7 linked regions of the Homo sapiens genome follow. The protein of the gene in region 3 interacts with the protein of the main gene of each other region in a pairwise test. Each region holds a gene or a part of one and is shown on either strand. Other genes may lie near its edges. The genes, in order: SAA1, ARFRP1, GLP1R, PIGG, CAND2, ZNF99 and P4HTM.

Region 1 (4,690 bases), on a different chromosome or scaffold from region 3:
AGGTTGAGATGCAAGGATCACTTAAACCTGGGAGGCTGAGGCTGCAGTGAGCCATGATTGCACCACTGCACTCCAGCTCAGGCAACAGAGCAAGACCCTGTCTTGAGAGGAGAGGAGAAGAGAGGAGGGGAGGGGAGGGCAGGGGAGGGGAGGGGAGGGGAAGGGAGAGGGGAGGGGAGAGGGGAGGAGAGAGGGGAGGGGAGGGGAGGGGAGGGGAGGGGAGGAGAGGAGGATCAGGTGAGGAGTATGCCAAGGAGTGTTTTTAAGACTTACTGTTTTCTCTTTCCCAACAAGATTGTCATTTCCTTTAAAAAGTAGTTATCCTGAGGCCTATATTCATAGCATTCTGAAAGAAAGAAAAGAAAAGAGGAAAGAAAGAGAGAGGAAGGAAGGAAGGAGAAAGAGAGAGGAAGGAAGGAGAAAGAGAGAGGAAGGAAGGGAGGAAGAGAAGAAGGGAGGAAGAAAAGAAGGAAGGAAGGAGGGAGGGAGGGAAGGGAGGGAGGGAAAGAGGAAGAAAGGAGGGAAAGAAGGAAGGAAGAGAGAGAGGAAGGAAGGAGGAAGAGAGAAGAAGGAAGGAGGAAGACAGAGAGGGAGTAAGGAAGGAAGGAAGGAGAAAGAGAGAGGAAGGAAGAAATGAAGGAAGGAAGGAAAGAAAGAAAAAATAAAAGAGTGAAAACGGACTGGAGAAGAAGAAACCACAGTTGCTGCTATATCCACCAGCCTCTCTGCATGTCCTGGCCTCAGCCCTGCTGGGCTCTGGTACTGACCACTTCCTTCCTTCCTAATTTCCTAATTGACTAGGCCAGCTGAGCAGGGCTTTTCTGTGCTGAGGAGGTAAATCTCTGGATATCTAGACTGAGGGGTGGAAGGAGCCTTCCAGGGCACACATGAGACATGGCAGGGGTAGGCTGCTAGTTTTATTTTGTTTTCTTTTAGACACAGGGTCTTGCTCTGTTAACCAGGCTGGAGTGCAGTGGCGTGATTATAGCTCACTGCAGCCTTGACCTCCTGGGTCTCCCACAATCCTTCCGCTTCAGCCTCTTGAGTAGCTGGGACTGCAGGTGCACACTACCACACCCGGTCCATTTATTTTTATATTTCGTAGAGACAAGATCTTACAGTTTTGCACAGAGTGATCTTAAACTCTTGACCCCAAGTGATCCTCCTGCCTTGGCCTCCAAAAGCATTGGGATTATAGGAGTGAGCCACTGTGCTGGACCTAGTCTGTCAGCTTTGAAGCTTTAGATATGAACTCAGAGGGACTTCATTTCAGAGGCATCTGCCATGTGGCCCAGCAGAGCCCATCCTGAGGAAATGACTGGTAGAGTCAGGAGCTGGCTTCAAAGCTGCCCTCACTTCACACCTTCCAGCAGCCCAGGTGCCGCCATCACGGGGCTCCCACTCTCAACTCCGCAGCCTCAGCCCCCTCAATGCTGAGGAGCAGAGCTGGTCTCCTGCCCTGACAGCTGCCAGGCACATCTTGTTCCCTCAGGTTGCACAACTGGGATAAATGACCCGGGATGAAGAAACCACTGGCATCCAGGAACTTGTCTTAGACCGTTTTGTAGGGGAAATGACCTGCAGGGACTTTCCCCAGGGACCACATCCAGCTTTTCTTCGCTCCCAAGAAACCAGCAGGGAAGGCTCAGTATAAATAGCAGCCACCGCTCCCTGGCAGGCAGGGACCCGCAGCTCAGCTACAGCACAGATCAGGTGAGGAGCACACCAAGGAGTGATTTTTAAAACTTACTCTGTTTTCTCTTTCCCAACAAGATTATCATTTCCTTTAAAAAAAATAGTTATCCTGGGGCATACAGCCATACCATTCTGAAGGTGTCTTATCTCCTCTGATCTAGAGAGGTAAGCAGGGTCGGGCCTGGTAGTACTTGGATGGGAGAACACCTGGGAATACCAGGTGCTAAAGGCTTTAAGAATAAAAAATAATGATCCTGCTTTGTGTTTATCCCATGTTGAGTTCTGTGCGGGGCAGAGGGAACACACGGTAAATGCGTTATGGGGAATTATAGGCTACTTGAGGGAGTGACAGTCTGGTGGTAACTCCTGCCTTCCTCCATCAGTGCCACGTTGGCATCCTCTTATGCAGTCAGGCTTCAGGGCTGATGGGTTCAGAACCGAGGGCTTCTGGCTCTGAGTGAGGTCCTGCTGCAAGGTTTCCTAGATGAGCCACTGAGACTCTAATAAGATCCAGTGGAAATAACCAGGCTCTCGTCGGAATATAAGTCCCAAGGGAAGCTGTGCCAGTCTTGTGGGCGACTGCCTGACTTCTCCTTTCATTTCAGCACCATGAAGCTTCTCACGGGCCTGGTTTTCTGCTCCTTGGTCCTGGGTGTCAGCAGCCGAAGCTTCTTTTCGTTCCTTGGCGAGGCTTTTGATGGTAAGGCTTCAGAAGGTTTGCAGGATTTCTGAAGAGAAACATCACCCTGGACCTGATAAACTGGGGAAAATGATGCTTTCGGAAGGCTGCTTTTGAACCACAGAGTTGCTAGTGTCTGCGTTGCTGAGGCCTGCCAGGAACTAGGGTTTGCTGGGTTGCCTGTCTCGAGTCTTTCAGAGCTGCTGGGAATATCCCCTTTCCCCGTAGTGCAGCTTCTCAGGATGTGTTAAGTGGATGGATCACATTTCAGAAGCCGCTGCAAGGTGTATCAAAAACACATCTCCTGAGCCGTAAGGGACGGGGCATCCAGTAACAACGCACACGGGGTATTTTTGGGCTTCCTTAAGATTTGAGCCGCTGCCTTAGGTTGTGCTGCCCAATGTGCCTGGGGAGCTGCTAAACAGATTAGAGAGTCGAGGATTGTTGTCAGTTACTCAGAGAAAGAACAATCATCCTTTCCAGGAGCACCTGAGCTGTTTGTTTTGCGTAGAAGATGCAAAATAAGGCCTGCAATGGGTATAAAATGTCCCTCAGCATAAATCGCATAGGAGTATGACTAAGGCTGTTGACTCTTCTGTCTTCTTTCTCCTTCCTCCTTCGATTTCCTAGTTGGATAATGTACAGGGCTCTTTAGCCTCGCTCTGTCAGGGGCTCCCTTCCTGGTTTGTTCTGTTTCCATTCTTCCTTCTCCAGCCTTCTTGACAAGAGCTGGGAACTAACGTGCCTCAAGCCCCCACAAGGACCACAGCATTTTCTCATTTAGTTTCAGAATGACTCTGTGACGCAATCTTCCTCTCTTGGAAGGTGAGAAAGCTGATCTTGGAAGGTGAGAAAGCTGAGACTTAGAGCAGCTGAAGCCAATGCCCAGGGACTTACTGCCAGTCAGCAGGTGGCAGGGCAGAGGTTTGAGCCCGGCTGTGCTTGAGGTCAGGGCTCTTGCCAGGTAGACGCATCACTGACCACCTCCTAGAGGTTGATGGTTATGAATCTCAGGCACACCTTGGCATCACCTGAAATACCCATGCCTTCAACTCCCCAGCAGAGTCTGCAGAAACTGGCCTGGGGTGTGGCCTGGGCACTGGGACTTTCAGTTTCTCTCTGGGTGATTAGAAAGTGCAGCCAAGGCTCACGCCTGTAATTCCAGCACTTTGGGAGGCCAAGGTGGATGAATCACTTGAGGTCATGAGTTCCGGAGCAGCCTGGCCAACATGGTGAAACCCCGTCTCTACTAAAAATACTAAAATGTAGCCAGGCGTGGTGGCAGGCACCTGTAATCCCAGCTACTCAGGAGGCTGAAGCACGAGAATCACTTGAACCCGAGAAGCAGAGGTTGCAGTGACTAGAGATCGCACCAGTGTCCTCCAACCTGGGTGACAGAGCGAGACTCCATCTAAAAAAAATGAAAAAGAAAGTGCAGCCAAGGCAGAGCACCACTGCCCTATTGCTTCCTCAAGCAACCCACAGCATCAGTACAGCCTACTAAGAAAGTATTTAGGGACTTTTATGCTCCTAACAGTCACTGGAACTCACGTCACAATGACGTGTATTCCATTTGCAAGAATATATACTTTAGGTCGGGGTGCGGTGGCTCACGCCTGTAATCCCAGCACTTTGGGAGGCCAAGGCAGGGGGATCACGAGGTCAGGAGTTCGAGACCAGCCTGACCAACATGGTGAAATCCCCGTCTCTACTAAAAATACAAAAATTAGCCAGGCGTGATGGCGCATGCCTGTAATCTCAGCTACTCAGGAGGCTGAGGCAGAAGAATCTCTTGAACCTGGGAGGTGGAGGTTGCGATGAGCTGAGATAGCACCACTGCACTCCAGCCTGGGCGACAGAGCAAGACTCTGTCTAAAAAAAAAAAAAAAAAAAAAAAAAAAAAAAAGAATATAAACTTTAGTAGTCAGGGCAGAAGTACTCTGTGTCTGCCACCTTTCTCAGCATCAGTATTCCATGTCACTACCTCATTCATACACACTCCTGGATCTTATCATAGGCAGCTTCATTCTATAGCAGTGGCTCTTCACCAGGGCACTTGAAGAAGCCAACTAGGATAAAGGAATGTGCTTCTCAACCCATGGTATCCAAGGCTGCTATGATCACAGGCTGAAAGCTTGAAGTCAGTGGAAGATTTGTCCTTCCTCATTCCCCTCTAAGGTGTTGTTGGAGTCTTTATGTTCTCCTGATGTCCCTTCTGCCTTTCCTTTCCTTTCCAGGGGCTCGGGACATGTGGAGAGCCTACTCTGACATGAGAGAAGCCAATTACATCGGCTCAGACAAATACTTCCATGCTCG
Region 2 (3,889 bases), on a different chromosome or scaffold from region 3:
CTCCCATGGCCAAGTGATCTCTGATAGATCCTGTAGGACCACTGAAGTCAGACAGGACAAGTTGAGTCAGGGCCTGTGTGTCCAGTGCGCAGCATGCTTGGGGAGTGACACAGATGATGATGATCTTGTCACAGGCCGGTGTCTCAGGCACAGATGCTGAGACAGGTCGAGGTACAGGATGCACACTGGGGGTCGGCACCAGGAAGGCAGGGAGGACGGGAGAGGAGAGGTCGACTCAGGCAGCAGGATCCACAGAGCTGTGGTTGGCCCAGCAGGGAGCCCTGGAGGAGAACTGGCTATGCTGTGCCATGTGGGGCCAGGCTGGCCGGGACTTCACACCATGGCCTGGTGGGTCCCCAGTGTGGGCTGCCCTGGGCAGGTGTGACCTGGCAGTGTGGCTCTTTGCAGCCAAAGTGGGTCCCACAGAAACCAAAATGAGACCATCTGCTGGTGCAGTGTTCTCCAACATGAAGCAAGAATACAGTGGGGCCAGAGATGCCTGCACTGGCCACAGCTGCAGCCCTATGTGGACCCACACTTCCACGTTGGAGAGGGGTTCCTCCAAGGTCCTGAGGGCCTCTCTTAAGGCGAAACTGGAAGAGGGAGACTTAAGGGGGCCACTGTAGCCCATCCTTGCTGCTGGTCTTGGGGCTGCACAGCCCTTCCTTGAGTGCCCTCCCAATTCACTACCACTTCTGCTGGGGTGCGACTTCCTGGCAGTCTGAGCCCTTCTCCAGACACCACCGTGGTGGGGCCAGTGGCTCCCTGGGTCCCCAGCTGTGGGACAGCTGTGGGATGGCAGCCCCATCTCCTGCCCACCAGGGTCTCCTAGACATGAGGTGCAAGTCATGCCCATGAGGCAGCTGTGGCTCGTCATTCAGCGTGTCTGCTGAGTATGTGCTGCTCTAGTGGCCGGGACCCCTGACCCTGCTGAGCTCAGAGCTGGGAGGATCAGCTGCAGGGACCCCCCTAGGTCACTGGGAGGGACCGGAAGGGAGGCCCCTGCTCCCACCCTGGTTTCCTGTATCCTGCATCCTTGTGCAGAGCCAGCACCACAGAAAGGGGCGTCATTGCGAATTGGCCTCGTCCTGGGGCTGGACCCTGGGTTGGTGTCCACATGTGTGGCATGTGCCAGGACCTCAGCTCCTGGGTTCTTTGCTGTAACACTAGTCTCTCAGGCTGGCTGGCACTTTGCAGTTGGGGAGCTCCCATTGCTGCTGGGGAGAAAAACTCAGACCCACAGTCCCTCTGACTGCTCCACTGGGGTCAGCTGGCCAGCCAGGAGCCACGCTTGGACACCTCCCTCTTCCCCCTCCTTGTGGGGCACCCCACAATGACCACTGCTGTGACGCCTCCACTGGGGCGTGGGGCTCTGGGTCCTGCCCGCACTCAGCCCTGAGGTGTCGCTCCCGTCCACTGCGGCCCTGCTGGGCTGTGCACCTTGTGCCTGGTAGGTGTGATGGGTGGCTCTGGCCACGTGGTCCCATGGTCCAGGACCCGGTTGCACATGAACCTTCTGCCACCCTGCTCAGAAGCCCCAGGAGCCACGTGGAGATTCTCTCACTGGGCTTGCTGCAGCCTCCACAGAGCCGCCCCTCCTGCCACAGAGGTCTCCACCTTAGGGTCCGCCTGCTCCCTTGTGTCAGCAGCAGACAGCCGGCACACTGCAGGGTCCCTTGAGGGGTTGGCGGCCTCTGTGTGGGACCTGTCTGTAGGCCAGAGAAGTTCCTGGGGGTGGGGGGGCCTCGCTACCTGCAGAACCCTGGAGGGCGCCTGGCCTTGGGCCTCCTCTCCACTGTGGGAAGTTCCTGGGGGTGGGGGGGCCTGGCCTTGGGCCTCCTCCTTTCCACTGTGGGAAGTGCAGGTGCACAGGCTTCTCTCCTCTGTGGGAAGTGCAGGTGCACAAGCTTGTCTGGCACTGGGATGGGGTTGTCTGGTACTCCCTGCTCAGACACCCTAAGGATTTCGGAGAGTTGGGCTGTGCCTCCTGGCTTCTCATGCTCTCGGGTGTGTGTGTCTTAACACACTGACCACCAGCTTGTCCTACCTGGTCAGCATCCAGTTCTAGGTCTCTGGGCACTCATGCCTGGACAGGAGAGCTGGCACAGCCTGGAGGCAAAGTGGCAAATGTGAGCTGTTGTCTGCTCCACGTGGACGCGGAGTTTGCTGTGTTTTTTTCTGATTGAGATAGAGGTGCACTCATCTGGTCCAGGGCTCAGCACTTGTACCTGAGGCTGCAGGGGCTGTGCCCTGTCTTGCCCAGGAGTGTTGCCAGCGAGCCCAGGACTGACCAGCCCAGGCTGCAGAGGTCTGAGCTCAGTGACTCTGGCCCTGTCCTGGCAGGGAAGGCTCGCTTCGTAGATGGCGCTGGTCAGTCTTATCCGCATGGCCACACTCCCTCCCTGTGCGAGGTGCTGGCACAGAGCCCCACAGGTGCACTCCCTCAACGGGCCAGGCTGTGGTCTAGGTTCCTCCAGCCCCCAAACCCTATCTTTTTTTTGAGACAGGGTCTCTCATTCTCACCCAGGCTGGAGTGCAGTGGTGTGATCAGAGCTCACTACAGCCTCAACCTCCCAGGCTCAAGCCATCCTCCCACCTCAGCCTCCCGAGTAGCTAGGACTGCAGGCGCACATTACCATAAGCTTTTGTACAGACGGAGTCTCACTGTGTTGCCCAGGTTGGCCGTGAAGTGGGCTCAGGTGATCCTCCTGCTTCTGCCTCCCAAAGTGTTGGGATAATAAGTGTGAGCCACCACGCCTGGCCCAATCCCTGTCTTTCACCTTTGGCCACCATCAGGCCAAAGGTTGCCGGCAGGTTCTCAGGAGCAGCGTCTGGGGACACCTCCACCAGATCTCCCCGCAACCCCAGAATGCATCCCAGAAGGGTCTTGCAGTTGGGGGCTGCCCTCTTGCCCCTTCCTCATGTGAGCCCCTCACTGTGGCCATGACACAGGCCTGGCTCTGCTGGCCCTTGGCAGGGTGGGGACTGAGCCCCAACTCCTGGTGCTTCCTCCCAGTATTATGCGGAGTGTCACGGCGTCATCTACGTCATTGACTCCACCGACGAGGAGAGGCTGGCTGAGTCCAAGCAGGCGTTTGGTGAGTGCGGCCTGGCTGCTCTGGGAGGGATGGATGGTGAGTGGGGGCAGGTCCAGCTTGGGCAGCTCTGTGCCTGGGGCAGGCTCAGTGTCTGGTCAGAAGTGCTCCTGCCTAGTGGGTGACGGGGGGGGGGGGGGCAGAGGGAGTGGCTGTCACAGTGTCCACGCCTGTGGGCCCCTGGGCAGTCAGAGGCAGGATGCTGGGTGTGAGGCGCTGCCTCTCCTGCCCTCCCCAGAGAAGGTGGTGACCAGCGAGGCGCTGTGCGGTGTCCCCGTCTTGGTGCTGGCCAACAAGCAGGATGTGGAGGTGAGCCCCACCCCTGCCTCCCGCAGCAGCTTCCCGAGTCCCCAGCCTCCCCCACAGCAAGGGGAGCAGGTGTGCACCCAGACACCCCAGGCCCAGTGACTGCCCAGGGGGTACAGAGCCATTCTCAAGGCCTGCCCTGCCCCCAGCAGCTTCCCAAGCCTGGTTCCTCTCCAGACCTGCTGCTGCCAGCCCTGGAGGTTCTCCCACCTCAGGGCAGGCGCCCAGAGGCCTCTTCCTGCTATGCAGGGCACCTCTCCCCAGGAGGGCGGCCGTGTCTCAGGAGTGTGTGGCCAAGCTGTGGGGACACCCAGGTGAAACTCAGAGCTCAAAGAAGTGATGCTGGGGCCCTGGTGGGAGTCAGCTCTGACCCTTACCTGTTCCTGCTACCCTTGGAGGTGGCATCTGTGCCAGCCCCACCCCCAGGGCAGCCCCTCAAGACCCCTCTGAGGTGCCACTGCCCCCGGGAGCACTGGCCACGCTGAGTT
Region 3 (3,974 bases):
CTTTGCCCTTGGAAAAAAACTTGATCCTGAATCACCAGGGTTGCACCTCTCTGACCAGGCCTGGCTACAGACCCCAGCTAGCATCTCCCCGTGGATCTTCCAGGCTAGTGCCACGGGGTCCAGGAGACCCTGCTCAGAGAACGGGAGAACCTGTCTCCCTTCAGAGCACCAGCCAGTTCCTTTAAACCCACCCTGAGACTCCTCATGCCCTGGCTGCTCCAGGCACAAGGACAGATACATCATTGTCACTGGGCCACAAAAGACACATGTGGCTCTGGGGCTAAGGCCTCTGTCCACAAGAGCTGTTCTGCAGACCCAGGGTTGCCATGGCAATGCCAGGTACTTGTGACCTGAGGAGAAAAGATGGCTTGAATATTGGTTCTGTGTGGCTGCCAAGGCCTGCACCAGCTGCTGGTGGGCGTGAGTGGGGACAGGGAGGGGGAGGCCTGAAGGTGGTTTTGCTGTAGCTTGTGCCTGAGAGCCACAGTGAGGTGACTCAGAGCCCTGAGTGCTTGTCCCAGCCCTGCCACTGCCGAGCTGTGTGACCTGGGGCAAGTCATTTTGCCTCCCTTGCCTCTGTCTCCCCAGCCGTAAATGAAGGTGAATGAGCTTCCCAATTCACCCCGAATCCTGAGGCTGGCATGGTGCCTGCTGGAGAGGGAGGTCAGGAGGGGTGTGCTGCACTGCAGAGGTCGAGGGCAGGGATGAGGATAAAAATCCGATGGTGGAGGAGGAAGTGTGGTGGCCTAAGTCCCAGCCCAGGTGCTCAGAATCTGTGGTGTTGTCTTTGTGGGTTCATTTTCATAGCTGAGGAACAGAAGGAACCTGATGTGAGATGCTCATGCATTTATGTGTTCATTCATTTGGTTCATTTAAAACACATGTACTGAGCACCTGCTGTATGCTGGGCACTGTGCTAGGTTCAGGGATGCTGAGATGAAGAAGATGTGGTCCCAGCCCTCGAGGTGCTCCCAGGTGAGAGGTAGGAGATGGACCAGGGACAAGCAGGACTGCAAGAGCCACGCAGGCAGGAGGCCAGGGGTTAGGAGCCGGGCATTGGAATCAGGCCAGATCTAGGTTCAAATCCTGGCTGAGCGACCTGAGGAAATAAACACTCTGCACCTCAGTTTCCTCATCTTTAAATGTGGAGCTACTTTGCAGGGTTGATGTGAAAGTCAGCTAAGATAATTAATGGAAAATTCTGTGCATACAGTAAGTGCCCAATAAATATGGTGATTTTCAAGGACAATCGTGATTACAGGGGTCACAGCAGAGGTTCAGGAAAAGTGCTGAAGGAGATGGGGGCAGAAGGAGACACTGTGTGTCAGCACCCTGAGAAGTCCCATAGGTGTCCCTGAAACCTCTCTTTGGTCTCTGGTTTCCCGGAGGTGTGCCTCAGTTTACCATCTTTCCCCCCCTCTCCAGCGGAAGGGCTATGAAACAAGCCTGGCCTCCTGGCAGCTGCACAAGTGGGGGCCACCACTGGACTCAGGGCCCCCATCCCAGCTGTCAGCATGCGCTCCCTTCACAAAGACTCAGCCGGGCAGGGAGCTGGCATACAACAGGGTGGCTGTAGGTGGTGTCTGCTCAGCCTCCTTCCCTCCCCCACTCAAGCTTGGGTTCATGACGCTGCATGGGACACTGGCGTCATCCTGGCAGGCAGCCTCTGGGCCATCTCAACTCTACTCAGTGCAGAAAATGTTCTTTTAAGGGATGGCATGCAGCCATACCAGGCGTCTTGCTGGGCATAGCTGGATGGACGACAAAGGAGGAGAGGAGGGTTGTTTGCACAGGGGCTGGTGGGGAGATTGGCCCCTTATCCACAGCCGCTGGCATCTGGCTGTCTTGGTGACTTGGCCTAAAGGGAAGGGCCCAGACCCCAGACACTCTGGTGTGGGAAGGGTGGGGACTTCAAAGAAGCTCTGGAAAGCAAATGTATGGGAACATCACCCAGAAGAGCAGTCCAGACCCCCCAGGACTAGCTTGGCAGGTTCCAGCTAGGCCTCTCCAGGGACCAGAATCACTGGCCACCACCGGGAGCCACAGCATTGCCACAAACCCTCAAGGGATGGGGGCTCCACAGTGTTACTTGGATTTGTCTCTTTCTGCCCCAACAATCTGGCCCCCAAGCATCAGCCCTCCTGAGAGGCTTTTCCTGATGGGGAGGCCAGAGCCCAGCACAACAGGGATCCTGGCTGACTGAGCTCCCCTGGGCTGCACCCCCATGGTCACTGCAGTGTCTCTCTAGATGGCATCAGTTGAGAAGCCCTCACTGGCTGCCCCTTCCTCCCTGCTGTTTCCCGTCTCAGCCACATTCCTTCCTTCCCTCCCTCCTCCCCTGTGAGGTGCTGGGGCCTGGAGAGAAGCCCTCAGGGAGTTTAGAAGGGTCTGCTGTAGACACCAGGAAGGCTGGGGGTTGCCGTCCCCCTTCTCAAGCATCCAAGCTGAAACTGGACTGTGCGCTGTAAAGACAGAGTCTCTCTTCTCTCTCCCATCTCCTGTCTCCCTGTGTTTCACCCTCCCTCTCATTCTCTTCCGTTAAATAATACTGTGATGGATTGTAAAAGGTACTTAGCTGAATCACAGAGTTTAGAGATGGAAAAGACCAATTAGGTCATCAAGCTGATCTCTCTCCTGAGGAGCTGCAGAAAATAGGAGACAACAATAAACAATTTTATTGGGATATTAATTTAGGAGCCCGAAGGCCTTGACTTGTGTCTCTTAATATAATGCAGTGGATTTCTTCCCTTCCCCACTAATGTAATAGTGGGGCCATTTTGTTAGCCATTGGTTTGCATGATGGCTTTCGTTTCCCTCCTTTTCCCATGGAAGGTCCAGCTGGAATTTCGGAAGAGCTGGGAGCGCTGGCGGCTTGAGCACTTGCACATCCAGAGGGACAGCAGCATGAAGCCCCTCAAGTGTCCCACCAGCAGCCTGAGCAGTGGAGCCACGGCGGGCAGCAGCATGTACACAGCCACTTGCCAGGCCTCCTGCAGCTGAGACTCCAGCGCCTGCCCTCCCTGGGGTCCTTGCTGCAGGCCGGGTGGCCAATCCAGGTGGGAGAGACACTCCCAGGGACAAGGGAAGGAAGGGACACACACACACACACACACACACACACACACACACACATACATCCTGCTTTCCCTCCCCAAACCCATCAGACAGGTAAATGGGCAGTGCCTCCTGGGACCATGGACACATTTTCTCCTAGGAGAAGCAGCCTCCTAATTTGATCACAGTGGCGAGAGGAGAGGAAAAACGATCGCTGTGAAAATGAGGAGGATTGCTTCTTGTGAAACCACAGGCCCTTGGGGTTCCCCCAGACAGAGCCGCAAATCAACCCCAGACTCAAACTCAAGGTCAACGGCTTATTAGTGAAACTGGGGCTTGCAAGAGGAGGTGGTTCTGAAAGTGGCTCTTCTAACCTCAGCCAAACACAGAGCGGGAGTGACGGGAGCCTCCTCTGCTTGCATCACTTGGGGTCACCACCCTCCCCTGTCTTCTCTCAAAGGGAAGCTGTTTGTGTGTCTGGGTTGCTTATTTCCCTCATCTTGCCCCCTCATCTCACTGCCCAGTTTCTTTTTGAGGGGCTTTGTTTGGGCCACTGCCAGCAGCTGTTTCTGGAAATGGCTGTAGGTGGTGTTGAGAAAGAATGAGCATTGAGACGGTGCTCGCTTCTCCTCCAGGTATTTGAGTTGTTTTGGTGCCTGCCTCTGCCATGCCCAGAGAATCAGGGCAGGCTTGCCACCGGGGAACCCAGCCCTGGGGTATGAGCTGCCAAGTCTATTTTAAAGACGCTCAAGAATCCTCTGGGGTTCATCTAGGGACACGTTAGGAATGTCCAGACTGTGGGTGTAGATTACCTGCCACTTCCAGGAGCCCAGAGGGCCAAGAGAGACATTGCCTCCACCTCTCCTTGGAAATACTTTATCTGTGACCACACGCTGTCTCTTGAGAATTTGGATACACTC
Region 4 (3,974 bases), on a different chromosome or scaffold from region 3:
CTTTCTCTTCTTTACCCTAATTACTGTCCTAACATTGACCCAGCCACCAGTACTAGGGATGCCCTAGCTTTATGCTCACCTATTTTATCCATAAAAAATCTTCAGACCAGCCTGGGCAACATAGCGGGACCCTGTATCTACCAAAAAAAAAAAAAAAAAAAAAAAAAAAGCTGGGTGTGGTGCCACACACCTGTAGTTCCAGCTACTTGGGAGGCCAAGGTGGGAGGATCGCTTGGGCCCAGGAGTTCAAAGCTGCAGTGATCCCTGATTGCATGACTGCACTCCATCCTGAGCAACAGAGAGGGACCCTGTCTCAAAAAAAAAAAAAAAAATCTTCAGTGCCCTTTTCATGCTCCGGTTTTGGATTCAGTGGCCTAATTCTTGCATTTTCTGACTGCAGGCATTGATGACGGGGAGCCTTCCTGGCTTTGTCGACGTCATCAGGAACCTCAATTCTCCTGCACTGCTGGAAGACAGTGTGATAAGACAAGCAAAAGCAGCTGGAAAAAGAATAGTCTTTTATGGAGATGAAACCTGGGTTAAATTATTCCCAAAGCATTTTGTGGAATATGATGGAACAACCTCATTTTTCGTGTCAGATTACACAGAGGTCAGTTTTTAAAATAAGAAAATATATCATACTAGAATATCATACTAGATAGAGCCTGGCATCCCATTACTTAGTGAGAGATGATACCATTTTATATTTGGTTTTATTAATTTATAGGGAGTACTATGGACAGGTGTAAAAATTATTCACTCACATAATCAGTTAACAACCCAGAAATACAAACCTGAAGCAGGTGTGAGCAGAGTTTTATGGAACCCAAAGCTTAGAACAGCTGAGTGCCATTGAGGGGCAGAGAGGATCAGGAAGGGTGACACAGCCAAGGGACTGTCTGAGCCGAGATATGATGGGTGAGTGGGGACTCCCCAGGTGGGCAGAACAGGCTGGTAGCTTCTGCACATGGCAGAGCTGTAGGACTCCACAGCCTGTTGGTTCTGCTGCAAGCGGAGCCTCATCGTGCCCTGAGGGCAGGTGGCCGACTGGGTGGGGCCTGGTCCTGAGGGGGTTTTCCTGGAGCTTTTCCAACAAAAATTAGACCTGCATGTTAGAAAGCAGACCTGGGGCTGAGGTAGGAGCACACCAGCACACCTGCCTGGCCTGGGGTTTAGCCAGCTTCACCTCCTAGATGGCTGGGCCTTATGGAGCATCTGTAGTCCTATCCTGTTCCAAAGTGGGGCGCTTTTCAACAGTTACTTTTCAGTAATGACTGAGTTTTCCTGACTATATATGGCATCACTGAGAAACACTTCTCTTCATAGGAGATTTTTTTAGTGGGAGGGAGATGAGCTAGCTGAGGGGTCAGGGCTCACCAGGCTGACAGCTCTATTGGGGGCTGATCAACTGCTCATCTCTCCTCCGTGATGTGTTTATTTCAGAAATCAATGTGATCATTGAGTGCTGTGTCTTTTTCAGAACAGCCTTCTTGTAGGACACATGTAGATGCCCTCAGCTTCATCATCCTGCTGGTTACTTTAACGCTGGGTACTGTCCTGTCTTTAATTAACTGCCCTTTGCCCTTAGTTACCTCATGACAACTTGGGATCTATTTAACTTGCCCATTTGCTCACCTTCAGTTATGCCCATTAAGCCCAGCAGTGATCCCACAGAAAAATATTTTTGTCAGAAGAACCCTTGCTCATTTAAATTATCTGTAGAATATATTCGATCCATAGCCCAGAAACATAAAAACAATATTAGCAAAAGTTTAATCCAATGCTAATGTTCATTTATTTATTATAGACGTGGGGTCTTGCTATGTTGCCCAGGTGGGTCCTGAACTCTTGGCCTCAAGCAGTCTTCCCGCTTCAGCCTCCTCAAGTGTTGAGATGAAAGGCATGAGCTGCTGTGTCCAGCCTATTTATTTATTTTTAATGACATAGATTTTGTTGTGTTTCAACTCCCCCAAATCCTGTAACCTGAATAAACCCCTAGATTTTAAGATGACTGTTGCGTTTTCCCCGGGGAGTGAAGATCCAGGGAAATTAGGTGAGTTGTTTATACGTGTGTTTCCCCTTCAAAGGTGGATAATAATGTCACGAGGCATTTGGATAAAGTATTAAAAAGAGGAGATTGGGACATATTAATCCTCCACTACCTGGGGCTGGACCACATTGGCCACATTTCAGGGCCCAACAGCCCCCTGATTGGGCAGAAGCTGAGCGAGATGGACAGCGTGCTGATGAAGATCCACACCTCACTGCAGTCGAAGGTGAGGCTCGCCGTCGCTCACTGTCTGCTGATGTGGTTTCACGTGGATGTTCCCTAGAATAAATGCAACCGCCTGAGTTATTCAGGGTGCCTGTGTGAATGTCCACCATCAGTCTGCTAGCCAGGGGCCGCATGCCACACGGGCAGCACTGTCTCAGTGTCCACTGCACTGACTCCGTCTTCCAGCAGCCCTGCAGAACAGCAGCTCTCACTCCTACCCGTGTATGCATTCATTCAACTAATACCTCCTGAAGACCTTTTGTGCCACTCTCTCTGTTCTGTATCACTCTCTCTGTTCTGTGCCACTCTGTTCTGTGTCACTTTCTGTTCTGTGTCACTCTCTGTTCTGTGTCACTCTCTCTTCTGTGTCACTCTCTGTTCTGTGTCACTCTCTCTGCTCTGTGCCACTGTCTCTGTTCTGTGTCACTCTGTCTGTTCTGTGTCTCTGTTTCTGTTCTATGTCACTTTTTGTCCATGCATTTGGGTGCATCAGTGAAACAGTCGATAATCCCTCGTGAAGCTCACGCTCTAGCCAGGAGAGATGAGAAAGATGAGTAAATAAGTATGTGAGGAGGTGATGGGTGCTGCAGAAACTCAGAGGGCAGGAGGAGGGGCTTTCAACAGCGTGTTGAGAGAAGCCTTCCCTGAAGACGTGTGCAGGGTGAGCAGAGACTTGAAGGGAGGGAGGGGCAGACCATGTGGTCTGTGCACGAGTGTTCCAGGAGGACCAGCAGCGAGGGTCAGGCACAGCCTGCCTGGCTTGTCCCGGAGCAGCAAAGGATGTGTGGCTGCAACCCCAGGGGCAGAGAAGCCTGGTGGGTGCCCCCACATGGCTCAGAGCTCTTGCCTTTTGCTGTGTGTTGTGTTCTCACCAGAGTCCTGTGAAAGATTCCATTTGACAGATGAGGCGACCAAGGCACAGAGTAGAATGCGTCCAGAGTCTCACAGCTTGGCAGTGGCAAAGACAGAAACCAGATACAAACCGTCTGCCATCAGAGGGCAGAAATGCAGCCTGCTGTGCTCCATGAGCTGTGTACAATTCTGTGAACTTCATTTATGGCATTATTTGACTGTGACCCTGTGATCTGGCTATGAGCTCATAGGAAAAAAAAATCTAATTCATTGAGAAAGAGCTACAACTCTATAAAGTAAAGCTAAAACCGAAAATTGTCTTCTTAAGATGATGTGCTCTCTTCAGTCTGAACGCAGTTGAAATGTTTTTCCTTTGCCTTAAAGGAGAGAGAGACGCCTTTACCCAATTTGCTGGTTCTTTGTGGTGACCATGGCATGTCTGAAACAGGAAGTCACGGGGCCTCCTCCACCGAGGAGGTGAATACACCTCTGATTTTAATCAGTTCTGCGTTTGAAAGGAAACCCGGTGAGAATTTAGGAATGTTAACAGTTGGAAATTGTATTACATTTGTTTTCTATAGTCTGGTTTTAATTTTGAAAACCTATTTTTTAGAAGCTCCATAAGGTTGAAGTCCCCAAGCAATGTGAGCATGAAAAGTAATTGGGCAAAAGGCTTTTGGGATCTGAAGTTACGTTCCTTCCCGAATCCTTAAAATACAGTTATTCTTTGTCAGAATTTTGTTGTATGAATGTTGCTGCCTGGATATCTGGAACTGTTGAGAAAAATTGCCAGTAGCTCAGAGACATCTGGACAGCATGTGTGAACTGAAGGAAACGTGAATACCTC
Region 5 (3,974 bases), on a different chromosome or scaffold from region 3:
CAATGTCACCTAGTTGATAAATGGCAAGACTAGTAAGTATACTCACTTAAAGCCAAACTTTGGTGCTCAAGCTCTTATCCACCAAATTATATACTTTTCCTTCTCTCTCCCATCCCTACACACATACACGTATAAAACATGGCTTGCTTTCTCCGAGAGCTAGTGTCTGCAGGAACCAGGGGTGTCTGAAATGCTGAGGCATACTTCAGAAGAGTTGGTTTCTGAATTCGGACTATTTGGCTGTAAGTTCTGTTAAGGGCTAGCTCTCTCACTACCTCTCCTCCTGCTCTCACCCTCCCTGACAAAGCCCTCTGCAGACCTGTTCTTTGTTGAGCCTGGAGTCCCAGAGATAAACCTGATGAGCCTCTGCCCTCAGTGAGTGTACAGTCCAATGGAGAAGATGCTCTGGTGGCCAGACTTGTATTGCAGTGTGAGAAGTGCTATAAAGGAGGGGTGCAGAGTGCTCTGAAAGGATCTTGTCCAGGGAACCATTGTGCTTAGGGGCTGTGGATGCAGGGGTAGGGCAGGGAGGTCAGTCATCCTTGAGCTGGGACATTTGAGCTGGGCTCTTGATGGGTGAATAGGAGGAGCTCAACAGATGAAGAAGAAGAGCGGGGATAGAAGGCCTATCTTGGGCAAAGAGGCACATCGCCTGGGTTGCCAGGCTGAGCTGGGCCCCCATGGACTGCAGCAGAAACACAACTTGGAGACCCTGGGTGCCATCTCAGAATGTCCCCTCAGCTGAGCAGACGTAGGGGTGCATGTGCTCACCTCAGGCCTTGGCCTGGCTCAAATCCAAACCTCCTCCTTCACTTTACCTTTGCCCAGAGGTGGGCACAGTCAGTCCTGCCATCCTGCCCATGCTGCCAGCCCAGCCTCCTTCTCTCTCCTAGCAACTTGTGGCTAATCTACCTGTTAAAAATAAATAGGTCATCGACCAGTCCACCCCTGGTAACAGGGCACTGTGGGCTGCAGTGACATCTAGGAGCAGGTCTGAGTCTGCACAGATGAGAGCCAGAATCCCAACTGTGATAGATTTTGCCACAGGAGGCGGGGGTCAGGGCTCTTGGTTGATTTGCTCAACCATGCTGGAAAGCAGGGCCAGCGTGGGGTGGTAGAGTGGCCCAGCAGGGTCAGTAAAAGCTGGAGGCTTTCTCCGAGGCAGCCTTACAGTATCTCCTCGCTGCTCTGTCCTGTTTTCTCCTGAGACTCCGCTCTCACATGCCTGCAGGAGCCAGTCAGTGGGTGAAGTGGGCCTAGTGGGGACCAGGTGAACTGGGGAGAGGGCAGCCACAACCTGATTCTAATCAGGTATTGTCACCAGGGATTGTAGGCCCCGTTGTACTCAAATATTCTGTTTTCAAGATAATCTGGAAGTCAGTGTTTTGTTTTTGTTTTTGTTTTTGTTTTTTTTTGAGTCTCACTCTGTCACCCAGGCTGGAGTGCTGTGGCACGATCTTGGCTCACTGCAACCTCTGCCTCCTGGGTTCAAGTGATTCTCCTGCCTCAGCCTCCCAAGTAGCTGGGACTACAGGTGTGCACCACCATACCTGGCTAATTTTCGTATTTTTAGTAGAGATGGGGTTTCCCCCTGTTGGCCAGGCTGGTCTCTAATTTCTGACCTTAAGTGATCTGGCGACCTTGGCCTCCCAAAGTGCTGGGATTGCAGGCGTGAGCTGCTGCGCCCAGCCTGGAAATCAGTATTTTTTTTTTTTTTTTTTTTTGAGATGGATACTCGCACTGTTACCCAGGCTGGAGTGCAGTGGCACGATCTCAGCTCACTGCAACCTTTGCCTCCCGGGTTCAAGTGATTCACCTGCCTCAGCCTTCCCAGTAGCTAGGATTACAGGTGTCTGCCACCGCGCTCGGCTAATTTTTGTATTTTTAATAGAGACAGGGTTTCACCATATTGGCCAGGCTGATCTAGAACTTTTGACCTCAGGTGATCCACCCGCCTCAGCCTCCTAAAGTGCTGGGATTACAGGCGTGAGCCGCCATGCCAGGCCAAAGTCAGTATTTTTGTGTCAACTTTCCCAATGTTCAAATGTTGACAAGTAATTTAAATTTTTGAAAACATGTTTGCAAGCTGGACACAGCTGAGGGCTACTAGTTTCAGACCTCTGCTCCTACCCTCTTAATTTTGGCGGGAATGGTGCCCAATTCCCGCACCATTCCTCGACTTGGAAAGTTGGCCCCAGCCTCAACTTTCCGTGGCTTCCAGCTTAGACTCCCACTGCAGTTTCAAATGCCTGGGACAGCATCAGGCTTTTGGTGTCAGGCCCCATGAATCCCTCACCTCCGGGTGGGTAGCCCTTGCCTCTGGTGCCCACCCTAGGTCAGTGAGCCAGTCAGCTATTGGCGCTGGTCTCCAAAATATGCCCATGCCCATCAGCATGGCGTGGGGCAGTGGTTTTCAAAGTGTGGTCCCTGACCCTCAGTGTCCTCCAGGAATTTGTTAGAAATGTGGATTCCTGGGCCCCAACTCAGACCTGCTGATTCAGAAACTCTGGGAATGGGGACTAGTATTATTTAACAAGCGCTGCTGGTGATTCTGATGCTGGCTATAGCTGGAGATCCACTGCTCTAAGGGCAGGGACTGAGCCGGTTCTCTGAGATGGGAGTGGACAGGGCTCGCCCTCCTCCATCTGTTTGGCAGACAGGCCTCTAGCTCTGACTTGGACACAAGGTGTCTGTTCAACCTTCTGGTATCCCTTGGCTGGGCGCGGTGGCTCACGCCTGTAATCCTAGCATTTTGGGAGGCCGAGGTGGGCGGATCACGAGGTCAGGAGATCAAGACCATCCTGGCTAACACAGTGAAACCCCACCTCTACTAAAAATACAAAAAATTAGCCGGGCGTGGTGGCCGGCACCTGTAGTCCCAGCTACTCGGGAGGCTGAGGCAGGAGAATGGTGTGAACCCAGGAGATGGAGCTTGCAGTGAGCTGAGATCGTGCCACTGCACTCCAGCCTGGGCAACAGAGCAAGACTCCATCTCAAAAAACAAAACAAAACAAAACAACCTTCTGGCATCACTTTCTCAGCTGTTGTGAGATGTGGATGATGTCCTGTGCCATTATAATAATGGCAGTGCCATTTACTGAGCACACACCATGTGCACTTAAAACACCATGAGGCAGGTACTAGTCTCATCCCTGTTTTCAGACAGGTAAACTAAGGCTTGGAGAGGTGAAATGACTTGCCCAAGTTCACACTCATAAATGGCTGAGGCGGGGGCCACCGATCCTGAAACATTATGCATTTAGCCAGCATGCTGAGCCGTTGCTAGTCTGCCACTATGTGGCAGTTGGTGTCACACATATGTGGGTCTCCTTGTAGCCCAACCATGCCCACTGCCCAAATAATCCACCATCATGTGGCACTTAACGACGGGGAAACATTCTGAGAAGTGCATCCTTAGGCGATTTTGTCCTTGTGTGAACCTCATAGAGTGTGCCTACACAACCTAGATGGTAGAGCCTACTACACTCCCAGGCTATATGGTGTGGCCTGTTGCTCCTAGGCTACAAACCTGTATTGAGTACTGTAGGCAGTTGTAACAGAGTGGTATTTGTGTGTCTAAACATAGAAAAGGTACAGTAAAAATAAGGTAGAAAAGATTAAAATGGCATGCCTGTATAGGGCAGCTCCATTAAAATCTTTTTTTTTTTTTTTTTTGGAGACGGAGTCTCTCTCTGTCGCCCAGGCTGGAGTACAGTGGCATGATCTTGGCTCACTGCAAGCTCCGCCTCCCGGGTTCACGCCATTCTCCTGCTTCAGCCTCCCAAGTAGCTGGGACTACAGGCGCCCGCCACCACACCTGGCTAATTTTTTGTATTTTGTTTAGTAGAGACTGGGTTTCACCATGTTAGCCAGGATGGTCTTGATCTCCTGACCTCGTGATCTGCCCACCTCGGCCTCCCAAAGTGCTGGGATTACAGGCGTGAGCCATTGCGCCCGGCCAGCTCCATTATAAT
Region 6 (4,717 bases), on a different chromosome or scaffold from region 3:
CTCCCACCCCATTCTCCTCACTTAAGTGCCCAATAACTCCTTCTCAGGAGACTCTGAACTATGCCCCAGTGAGTGCCCCAGGTAAGAACTTTTCAAGTTCTTACACCATCTCATTGGGGTCACTTTTTTTTTTTTTTTTTTTTTTTGTCGTTTGGGACACTATTTTTGATTTCACAGATTCTCACTATTTTTCTTTCACTATTTTTTCATTATATTTCACTATTGTTCTGCTCCCTTAAAGAATGCAGGGGGCAGAAATTATTTCTGTGTTTTCCCCGCAATACCAGCATCTGATTGGCTGACCAGCAATGTGTCTTCAAAAAATGGAAGCTGGGTTGGGTGAAGACAATCTTAATGTCTCAAGGGTTAGCTTTTCAAAGGAAGAGTATACCAGGAGAGACCTCTCAACCCCAGGGCATCTGCCTTCTTCGTTGAAAGGCTACACTCCACACCTCAGGTTGTCCTACTGGAGAAAATGACCAGGAGCTGATATTCACTAGACACTCTAGCAGACATAGCCATGGGGAATATTTTAGCTAATTCCCAGACAGTACTGAAACCCAGGACCAGGGAAAAAACTGAAGAATGGCTGAAAACACATCATAAAGTTTCCAAAGGAAAACCTTTACCTTTACCCCAAAACATTCTGCTAAAATCTGTGGAGCAAGGAGGAAAAAAAAAAAGCGGCACAAAGATTTTTTACAACACAGTGTCAGGGGATTATTTTTTGCTTTCTTCTCTTAGGAAATATTCACAAACAGAAAACAAATATTATGAAAAGTACCATCCAATGCTTTGTTAAAAAATAAAATACAGTATCAAAATGTACACTAAGGACAAATAGTAATGTGAATCAGAGAGGGAAAATTGACATTATGAACTGGAAGTTTAGTATTTTATTGCAAGCCAGAGTTAGGCTGCAGGAATTGGGGTTTGGGAGTAGACATAATACTCTGCTTGAGATACCTGTAAAAAATGGAGGGGAAAATCAGTCATCTGAGGAGTGTGAAAATAATTAAAAATAATTAAGTGGCAGGCAAATAGACTGAGGTGGCTCTAGTGCCTGATATCTACTTTTTTTTTTCTTTTTTTTTAAGACAGTTTCGGTCTTGTTGCCCAGAATGGACTGCAATGGCGCGATCTCGGCTCACCGCAACCTCTATCTCCCGGGTTCAAGCAATTCTCCTGCCTCAGCCCCACGAGTAGCTAGGATTACAGGTACAGGCATGTGCCACCACACCTGGCTAATTTTTGTATTTTTAGTAGAGATGGGGTTTCTCCATGTTGGTCAGGCTGGTCTTGAACTCCCGACCTCAGGTGATCCGCCTGCCTCGGCTTCCCAAAGTGCTGGGATTACAGGCATGAACCACCGCACCTGGCCTTTTTTTTTTTTTTTTTTTTTTTAATATGAGAGGGAGTCTCCCTCTCTTGCCCAGGCTGGTGTGCAGTGGCGCAATCTCAGCTCACAGCAACCTCTGCCTCCCGGGTTCAAGCGATTATCTGCCTCAGCCTCCCGAGAAACTGGGATTACAGGCATCTGCCACACTCCCGGCTAATTTTTGTATTTTTATTAGAGACGGAGTTTTACCATGTTAGCCAGGCTGGTCTAGAACTCCTGACTTCGTGATTCACCCGCCTCGGCCTCCCAAAGTGCTGGGATTACAGGTGTAAGCCACCGAGCCAGGCCTGATAATCTACTTTTTAAAAAATCTAATTCGGCCGGACGCGGTGGCTCATGTCTGTGATCCCAGCACTCTGGGAGGCGGAGGAGGGCAGATCACCTGACGTCGGGAGTTCGAGACCAGCCTGACCAAAACGGAGAAACCTCGTCTCTACTAAAAACACAAAAATTAGCCGGGTGTGGTGGCGGATGCCTGTAATCCCAGCTACTCGGGAGGCTGAGGCAGGAGAATCGCTTGAACCTGGGAGGCGGAAGTTGCGTTGAGCCGAGATCGCGCCACTGCACTCCAGCCTGGGCAACAAGAACAAAACTCCGTTTCAAAAAAAGAAAGAAAAAAATATTAATAATTCAAGTGCTTTTTTTTTTGTAAATTACTACATTGGGGGAAACAAAATTCAGGCTTAACCAACTATAAACTACAATTAACCTCTGATTATATAAACGGGAAATTTCCATCTTGATTGTACAAATTAAGAATCTACGTAACTGTACATAACCCATTACTGAATTTGGTTTTCTTCATTATGCACCTTATAAAACTCTTTCCGTCAAATCCCTTCCATAGACCATAAACTACAAACCACAGCTGGGTGCTCTGCCATTTTTGAATCACTCTTTGATTAAATCCTTTATTACTTTAGTGATGACTGCCATCAATTTTTAATAGGAGAAAAGAGGGACTGGAAACCTCACTGGACCAAAGCTCTTCCCATTCATGAACCCGCACCCGGAGTCAGGATTCTCCCCTGACGCCCCTCCCGTGGTCCCTGCACAATCTGTGAGAGAGGAGGCGCTGCGGGTGAAGAGCGGCCCAGAGAGGGCTCCAGGCCAGGGCATAGTCACAGTGCAGGAAGGAGGCAGGTCGCCCGGGGTCCCGCAGTCAGCGCAGCCGCCATCTTATGGCTGAAGGAGACTGAGGCCGAGCTGGGCAAGAGCTCGGGGCGCAGACTGTGGAGCTCACTGAGGGGAGGCCTGAGTCCCGCCACAGCCACTTTCCACCGGTTCCAGTCAGCCCCTTCCCCTTCTCAGGATATCGGACCCGGCACTCTCACCATTTCTAAGCTTCCAGGGGGTCCTGGCGTCCTAGCTGTGGATCTCCAAATACCTACAGGTCACAGGGCCACAGAGGCTAAGGACACAGAGCAGTAAAAACGAGATCCGGAGCTCCAGCTGGAACCAGAAACAACGGCCCCGCCACATCCCACAAGCCGCCCTTTCCGCTCCAGCTGAGTGCCTGATTGGACGGTTCCCAGCCCAGAGTCCCTGATTGGATAATGTTTAAATCCCCGCCTCCTCAGGCCCTGAGTGACAGAAGATGTGATCTGATGCTGAGCTGAATGAAGAGTGACGGGCCGGGCGCGGTGGCTCACGCGTGTAATCCCAGCACTTTGGGTGGCCGAGGCGGGTGAATCACCAGAGGTCAGGAGTTGGAGACCAGCCTGGCCAACATGGCAAAACCCGGTCTCTACTAAAAATAAAAATTAGGCTGGTGTGGTGGCGGGCGCCTGTAATCCCAGCTACTCCGGAGGCTGAGGCACGAGAATTGCTTAAACTCAGGAGGCGGAGGTTGCAGTGAGCCGAGATCGCGCCAGTGCACTCCAGCCTGGATGACAGAGCGAGATTCTGTCACGAAAAAAAGAAAAGAAAAGAAAAAGAAAGGAAAGGATGACAGTCTAGGCTGCAGCCTTTTCAGGCAGGGCTTCCTTCCTGAACTGAGCCAGGCCAACCCCAGAGGGTATTTGCATTTAACCTTTTGTATAAGGTCACATTCTTTTATAAATAATATATTATATGGTTATTCACAAATGAAAAGAATATAACAATTATCTAAAATTTTCAGAGTTTATGACCTTCCTGGCTTCTGGTTTTTTCATCAGATTGCCTGAGGTTTTAAAAAGAAGGCAATCCTCTGAAATAAAATTGTATTTTAAATTTTCTAGTAGCCAAACTTTAAAAATTAAAAAAAAAAAAAACAGGTGGAATTTATTGTAGCAATTTAATTAACCCAATATATCCAAAATATCATCTTAATACGTAAGCAAAATGTAAATTATAAATGAAGTGTAGATATTTTTTGGAACTTCATCTTTGAAACTAACTCTGTATTTTACCTTTCCAGCACATCACAGTTCAGACCAGCCACATTCCAGGCACTCAGTCGCCACACATGGCCAGTAGCTGCCACATTGAAGTGCAGCTCTGACCTTAGGAGAGGGAAGGGCCTGAACAAACCTTTTCTGCCAAAGATGGAAAAAGAGCCTTTCCCTACCAACATCTCTCTTCAGCTCTGAGGGAGGAACAGATAGTAGCCATAAATAAAGCACAGGACAGCAGGAAAAAACAACCACAGGTAGACCACTGCTGGCCACCTGTTGCCTACCTTTATTCCAGAGATCAGAAGGTGAACTAAGGATGGTAAGGCCACAGGAGAAGAAATCTCTGTGTCTTCAAATCTGTGCACAGTCTTGACCTCCAATGTTTAGATATGAAGAAAATAGATTAAAGGAAAACTTACTTTTCTATTTGTCCTTGGCCCTAATGGTCAGGCTGTGGTTATCTGTTTTCTCCTGTGGTATGGGGGACTGTGTGAGTATAGGCACCAATTACATGCATACATGTCCACATATATTTCTGCATTACTCAGCATTCTCTTACGAGGCCTCCAACTTTATATCAGGGGAAAAATCAGTACCTATAGGGTACCCACTGTTAGAAGAGAACTAGTAATCAACTTGTCAATGAATCCTGGCATCCTATCTGCACTGGGTGCATGTATTAATTAGCTATTGCAGCACAACAAATCATTCAAAACTTATTTGCTCATAATTGAGATGGTCAGCTATTTAGGGTGGGCTCAGTGAGGCTGTTCTTTTTGTCTCAGCTGAGCTCCTCCAGACATGTATCTTCAGCTGTTTGTTGAATAGGCAGCTGTGCTTCTGGGGATGAGCTTCTGCTTCTGGGGCTGTCAACAGGGGCAACTTGCTTCTCCTCCCCATGGTATCTTATCCTCCAGCTGGCTAACATGGGCTTTATTCA
Region 7 (3,974 bases), on a different chromosome or scaffold from region 3:
CTGCCTGAAAAAAATATTTGAGCAAGGCTGGGCGCGGTGGCTCACGCCTGTAATCCCAGAACTTTGGGAGGTCGAGGCGGGTGGATCACCTGAGGTCAGGTTGTTCGGGACCAGCCTGACCAACATGGGGGAACCCCGTCTACTAAAAATACAACATTAGCAGGGCGTTGTGGCACATGCCTGTAATCCCAGCTACTTGGGAGGCTGAGGCAGGAGAATCGCTTGAACCCAGGAGGCAGGGGTTGTGGTGAGCCAAGATTGTGCCATTGCATCCAGCCTGGGTAACAAGAATGAAACTCCATCTCAAAAAAAAAAAAAAAAAATCTGAGCAACGACTTGTGGGAAGTATGGGATAAAGCCAGATGACTGTCAGGAAAGAGGGGTCCAGGAAGGAACTAATACTCACCCCATTACTACTACACTACTAACGACTACTATGAACAGACACATCTGAGGAGGCACTGTTTTCTCTCAGCAGCCTTCCTGGGATCTGTATATATCTAATTCATATTGATGTTAGGTTAAGTAAGCCATGAAGCCAAAGTCTCCCTAATAAACAGCTTGTCCTATAAAGCAGAGAATGAGCCGGGCTTGGTGGTTCATGCTTCTAATCCCAGCACTTTGGGAGGCTGAGGCGGGTGGATCACTTGAGGTCAGGAGTTCGAAACCAGCCTGACCAACATGGTGAAACCCCGTCTCTACTAAAAATACAAAAATTAGCTGGGCATGGTGGTGGATGCCTGTAATCCCAGCTATTCGGGAGGCTGAGGCAGGAGAATTGCTTGAACCCGGGAGGCAGAGGTTGCAGTGAGCCAAGATCGTGCCACTGTACTCCAGCCTGGGTGACAGTGAGACTCCATCACAAAAAAAAAAAAAAAAAAAAAGCATAGAATGAGAAACCCAGATCTAAAGTCACCAAGGGCAAATTATGAAAAGCAGAAGAGATTTGACAAAAGGTAAACTGGTTCTGGTTAAGCCATCAGATGGATCTCTGTTTCTGCAGATGAACTTCAAAAGGCATAACCAAGAGATTGCAATCAATGATTACAGGAAGTCCAGATGTGTGAGAGGGAAGAGGGTGGTCATGGTGGGGCAGTTCCTGAATACTGTGGTATTGGATGACTACAAAGAAGGATGCCTCATCCCCAGCAGGAGCAGTGTCTGTCTTCTGGGCCTGCCTGTCCCTCTGTCCATTGGTCTGCTACCCAGTTATTCTAAATGGGCAAGCAGGGCCCAAGAAGAGTGGACCTGCTATAGATTCTGCCCCCTCTGCCATGCTGTTCTTGGATCTAAACCTGTGACCTGCCAGCTTCAGGGACCCAAGATACCTGGGATCGAAGAGTGGATGCTAAAGATGTGAGCTGGGGCAAGGGAACTGGGGTCCACCCCAAGGTGCCTCCATCTCTGTAGAAGGGAACCCTAGCACTTCTCAAGGAAGACCCCGTGCAGCCCCCAGTCTCTCCTTGAGAAATATTTCCTGTTTCCCACCCTTGTTTCTAAAGACACTTGGCAACTGGGACCTGGGCCACAAAAGGCCCACGCTTGAGCTCCTGGCAAATACTTCCATGACTGGTAGGTCATTTTCCCTTGGTAGGGAAATAAAGGATTTGGAATATTGGGTGTCAGCTGAGGGCACCATCCTGTTCAGAACAGAAGTGCTCCATTTCTGAACCATTGCCACCTCTCTGGGGACATTGCTTTCTTACATGTGGCCCACTTCTCCCGCTGTCCTACCCCACCCCACACTGATTCTGTCATAGCAGATCAGATCTCATGGCTCTCTCTTTTTGTTTTGTTTTGTTTTGTTTTGTTTTTGTTTTGAGATGGAGTTTCACTTTTGTTGCCCCGGCTGGAGTGCAATGGTACCATCTCGGCTCACTGCAACCTCCGCCTCCCGGGTTCAAGTGATTCTCCTGCCTCAACCTTCCAAACAGCCGGAACTACAGGCACCCGCCACCACACCTGGCTAATTTTTTGTATTTTTAGTAGAGATGGGGTTTCACCATGTTGGCCAGGCTGGTCTCAAACTCCTGACCTCAGGTGACCCACCCACCTTGGCCTCCCAAAGTGCTGGGATTACAGACATGAGCCACCGTGCCCAGCCGCTCATCACTCTCTTAAATGTCTCCAACATTTTCCATTTCACTTCTAAGTCTCATTTGATGCCTAAAAGCCCTCTCGCCTCTTAGACTCATCTCCTGCCCCCACCCCCGACTCCATTTACTCCCTGCTGATCCTCAGACACCACAAGCTCACTACTGCCTCAGGGCCTTTGTATGTACTATTCCCTCACTAAAAGGCTTAGACCTGGCTCTTCCCACAGAGCGTGCCTTCAGCTCCAGCAGGCCTCTGCTCACACATCCCATCCTCAGAGACCTCTTGTCCTCAAACCCATCTTAAAAGGTTCCCAGGCACCCTGTTGCATCAGCCTGCTGGGTTTTGTTCTCAAATGCTTAGGACTGCTGGAAACTATTTTCCGTATTTATTTGTGTCATTTGTACCTCTGCCCACAAAGGTGAGCTGCATATGTAAGAGGACTGATTTGTCTCAGCTGTGTGTCCAATGGCCAGAGTTGTATCTCCTGCTGATTTTTTTTTTTCTTTTGAGATGGAGTCTCGCTCTGTTGCCCAGGCTGGAGTGCAGTGGTGTGATCTCGGCTCACTGCAACCTCCGCCTCCTGGGCTCAAGCCATTCTCCTCCTGCCTGAGCCTCCTGAGTAGCTGAAATTACAGGCGCCTGCCACCATGCCCAGCTAATTTTTGTATTTTTACCAGAGGCAGCGTTTCACCATGTTGGCCAGGCTGGTCTCGAACTCCTGACCTCAAGTAATCCGCCTGCCTCAGCCTCCCAAAGTGCTGGGATTACAGGCATAAGCCTCCGTGCCCAGCCTCCCGCTAATTCTTGGCTGGCTGGAGGAGTTCACTGGGTGCTCTCAGCCCAGTCCAGCATCTGCCTGCTGGCTTAGAGCATCCTCCACGTATCCTTCTGACTTGGCACCCTCTTCAAAGGCAGCAGGGGGTACTACCAGTGGCCAGCAAGAGTTTTAATCCATTTTTCTTAACAATTTGAGGTAAATGAGTAATTGCCACCAGTATACAAAACAATTTATTTTAAAATCATGACTGCTTTATCTTAGGATTTCTAAATGTATTCTTTTTCAGCTTAAGAAAACAATTAGGCAGCTACATCAGACCATAGTCCTCCTCATGACAAACACTGGAGGCCCAAAAGTAGAGAAACAATTTTAGTGTGCGTATCAGTTCAAGGTTGTTGTTTTGTTTTGTTTTGTTTTTTGAGACGGAATCTCGCTCTATGGCCAGGCTGGAGTGCAGTGTGGTGCGATCTTGGCCCACTGCAACCTCCGCCTCCCGGGTTCAAGCAATTCTCCTGCCTCAGCCTCCCATGTAGCTGGGACTACAGGTGCGTACCATCTCGACTCACTGCAACCTCCGCTTCCTGGGTTCAAGTGATTCTCCTGCCTTAGCGTTCCGAATAGCTGGAAATACAGGCACCCGCCACCACGCCCAGCTAATTTTTGTATTTTTAGTAGAGATGGGGTTTCACCATGTTGGCTAGGATGGTCTCAATCTCTTGACCTCGTGATCCGCCTGCCTCAGCCTCCCGAAGTGCTGGGATTACAGGTGTGAGCCACTGCGCCTGGCTAGTTCGAGTTTTTAAGGAATTTAGCTCAGGCTGCTGCATTGCCACACACACCCCTGCTCTTTCATAGGCCTGCTGCTTGGCAAAGCTACGGACCGGTAAAGGTTAATCAGGTATAATTAAGTCTGTCCGGGGTTCGACAAACAGCATCTTGTCCAAGGTGAGCATAGCCCAAGGCTATGTGCCTGCCCGGAGACTCAGCTTGGGGTTCCGAGGCATGTGGGCAGTAGTAGCAGGCCACTAGCCAGGCTGTCATCCTAGGCCTGGGAAGGACAGAAGGTGGTTTTCCCTACCCAGCATAGACAGCTGCCTGG

The links.
Region 1: the proteins of GLP1R (region 3) and SAA1 interact in a protein complementation assay, tested with the Homo sapiens proteins (one large-scale study listed by BioGRID).
Region 2: the proteins of GLP1R (region 3) and ARFRP1 interact in a protein complementation assay, tested with the Homo sapiens proteins (one study listed by BioGRID).
Region 4: the proteins of GLP1R (region 3) and PIGG interact in a protein complementation assay, tested with the Homo sapiens proteins (one study listed by BioGRID).
Region 5: the proteins of GLP1R (region 3) and CAND2 interact in a protein complementation assay, tested with the Homo sapiens proteins (one study listed by BioGRID).
Region 6: the proteins of GLP1R (region 3) and ZNF99 interact in a protein complementation assay, tested with the Homo sapiens proteins (one large-scale study listed by BioGRID).
Region 7: the proteins of GLP1R (region 3) and P4HTM interact in a protein complementation assay, tested with the Homo sapiens proteins (one study listed by BioGRID).

The regions. Positions count from the first base shown.
Region 1 is NC_000011.10:18,264,584-18,269,273, forward strand, and holds the start of SAA1 (serum amyloid A-1 protein preproprotein), read left to right. Parts: upstream 1-1,680; 5' UTR 1,681-1,713; exon of another isoform or gene 1,714-1,860; intron 1,861-2,300; 5' UTR 2,301-2,304; coding exon 2,305-2,395; intron 2,396-4,611; coding exon 4,612-4,690. UniProt on the Homo sapiens protein: Major acute phase protein.
Region 2 is NC_000020.11:63,701,345-63,705,233, reverse strand, and holds part of ARFRP1 (ADP-ribosylation factor-related protein 1), read left to right. Parts: intron 1-3,016; coding exon 3,017-3,098; intron 3,099-3,333; coding exon 3,334-3,404; intron 3,405-3,889. UniProt on the Homo sapiens protein: Trans-Golgi-associated GTPase that regulates protein sorting. Controls the targeting of ARL1 and its effector to the trans-Golgi. Required for the lipidation of chylomicrons in the intestine and required for VLDL lipidation in the liver.
Region 3 is NC_000006.12:39,083,074-39,087,047, forward strand, and holds part of GLP1R (glucagon-like peptide 1 receptor precursor), read left to right. Parts: intron 1-2,832; coding exon 2,833-3,000; 3' UTR 3,001-3,974.
Region 4 is NC_000004.12:505,318-509,291, forward strand, and holds part of PIGG (GPI ethanolamine phosphate transferase 2, catalytic subunit), read left to right. Parts: intron 1-400; coding exon 401-610; intron 611-2,087; coding exon 2,088-2,276; intron 2,277-3,511; coding exon 3,512-3,653; intron 3,654-3,974.
Region 5 is NC_000003.12:12,799,332-12,803,305, forward strand, and holds part of CAND2 (cullin-associated NEDD8-dissociated protein 2), read left to right. Parts: intron 1-3,974.
Region 6 is NC_000019.10:22,781,281-22,785,997, forward strand, and holds the start of ZNF99 (zinc finger protein 99), read right to left. Parts: upstream 2,872-4,717; 5' UTR 2,737-2,871; coding exon 2,734-2,736; intron 1-2,733. UniProt on the Homo sapiens protein: May be involved in transcriptional regulation.
Region 7 is NC_000003.12:48,992,997-48,996,970, forward strand, and holds part of P4HTM (transmembrane prolyl 4-hydroxylase), read left to right. Parts: intron 1-3,588; exon of another isoform or gene 3,589-3,974. UniProt on the Homo sapiens protein: Catalyzes the post-translational formation of 4-hydroxyproline in hypoxia-inducible factor (HIF) alpha proteins. Hydroxylates HIF1A at 'Pro-402' and 'Pro-564'.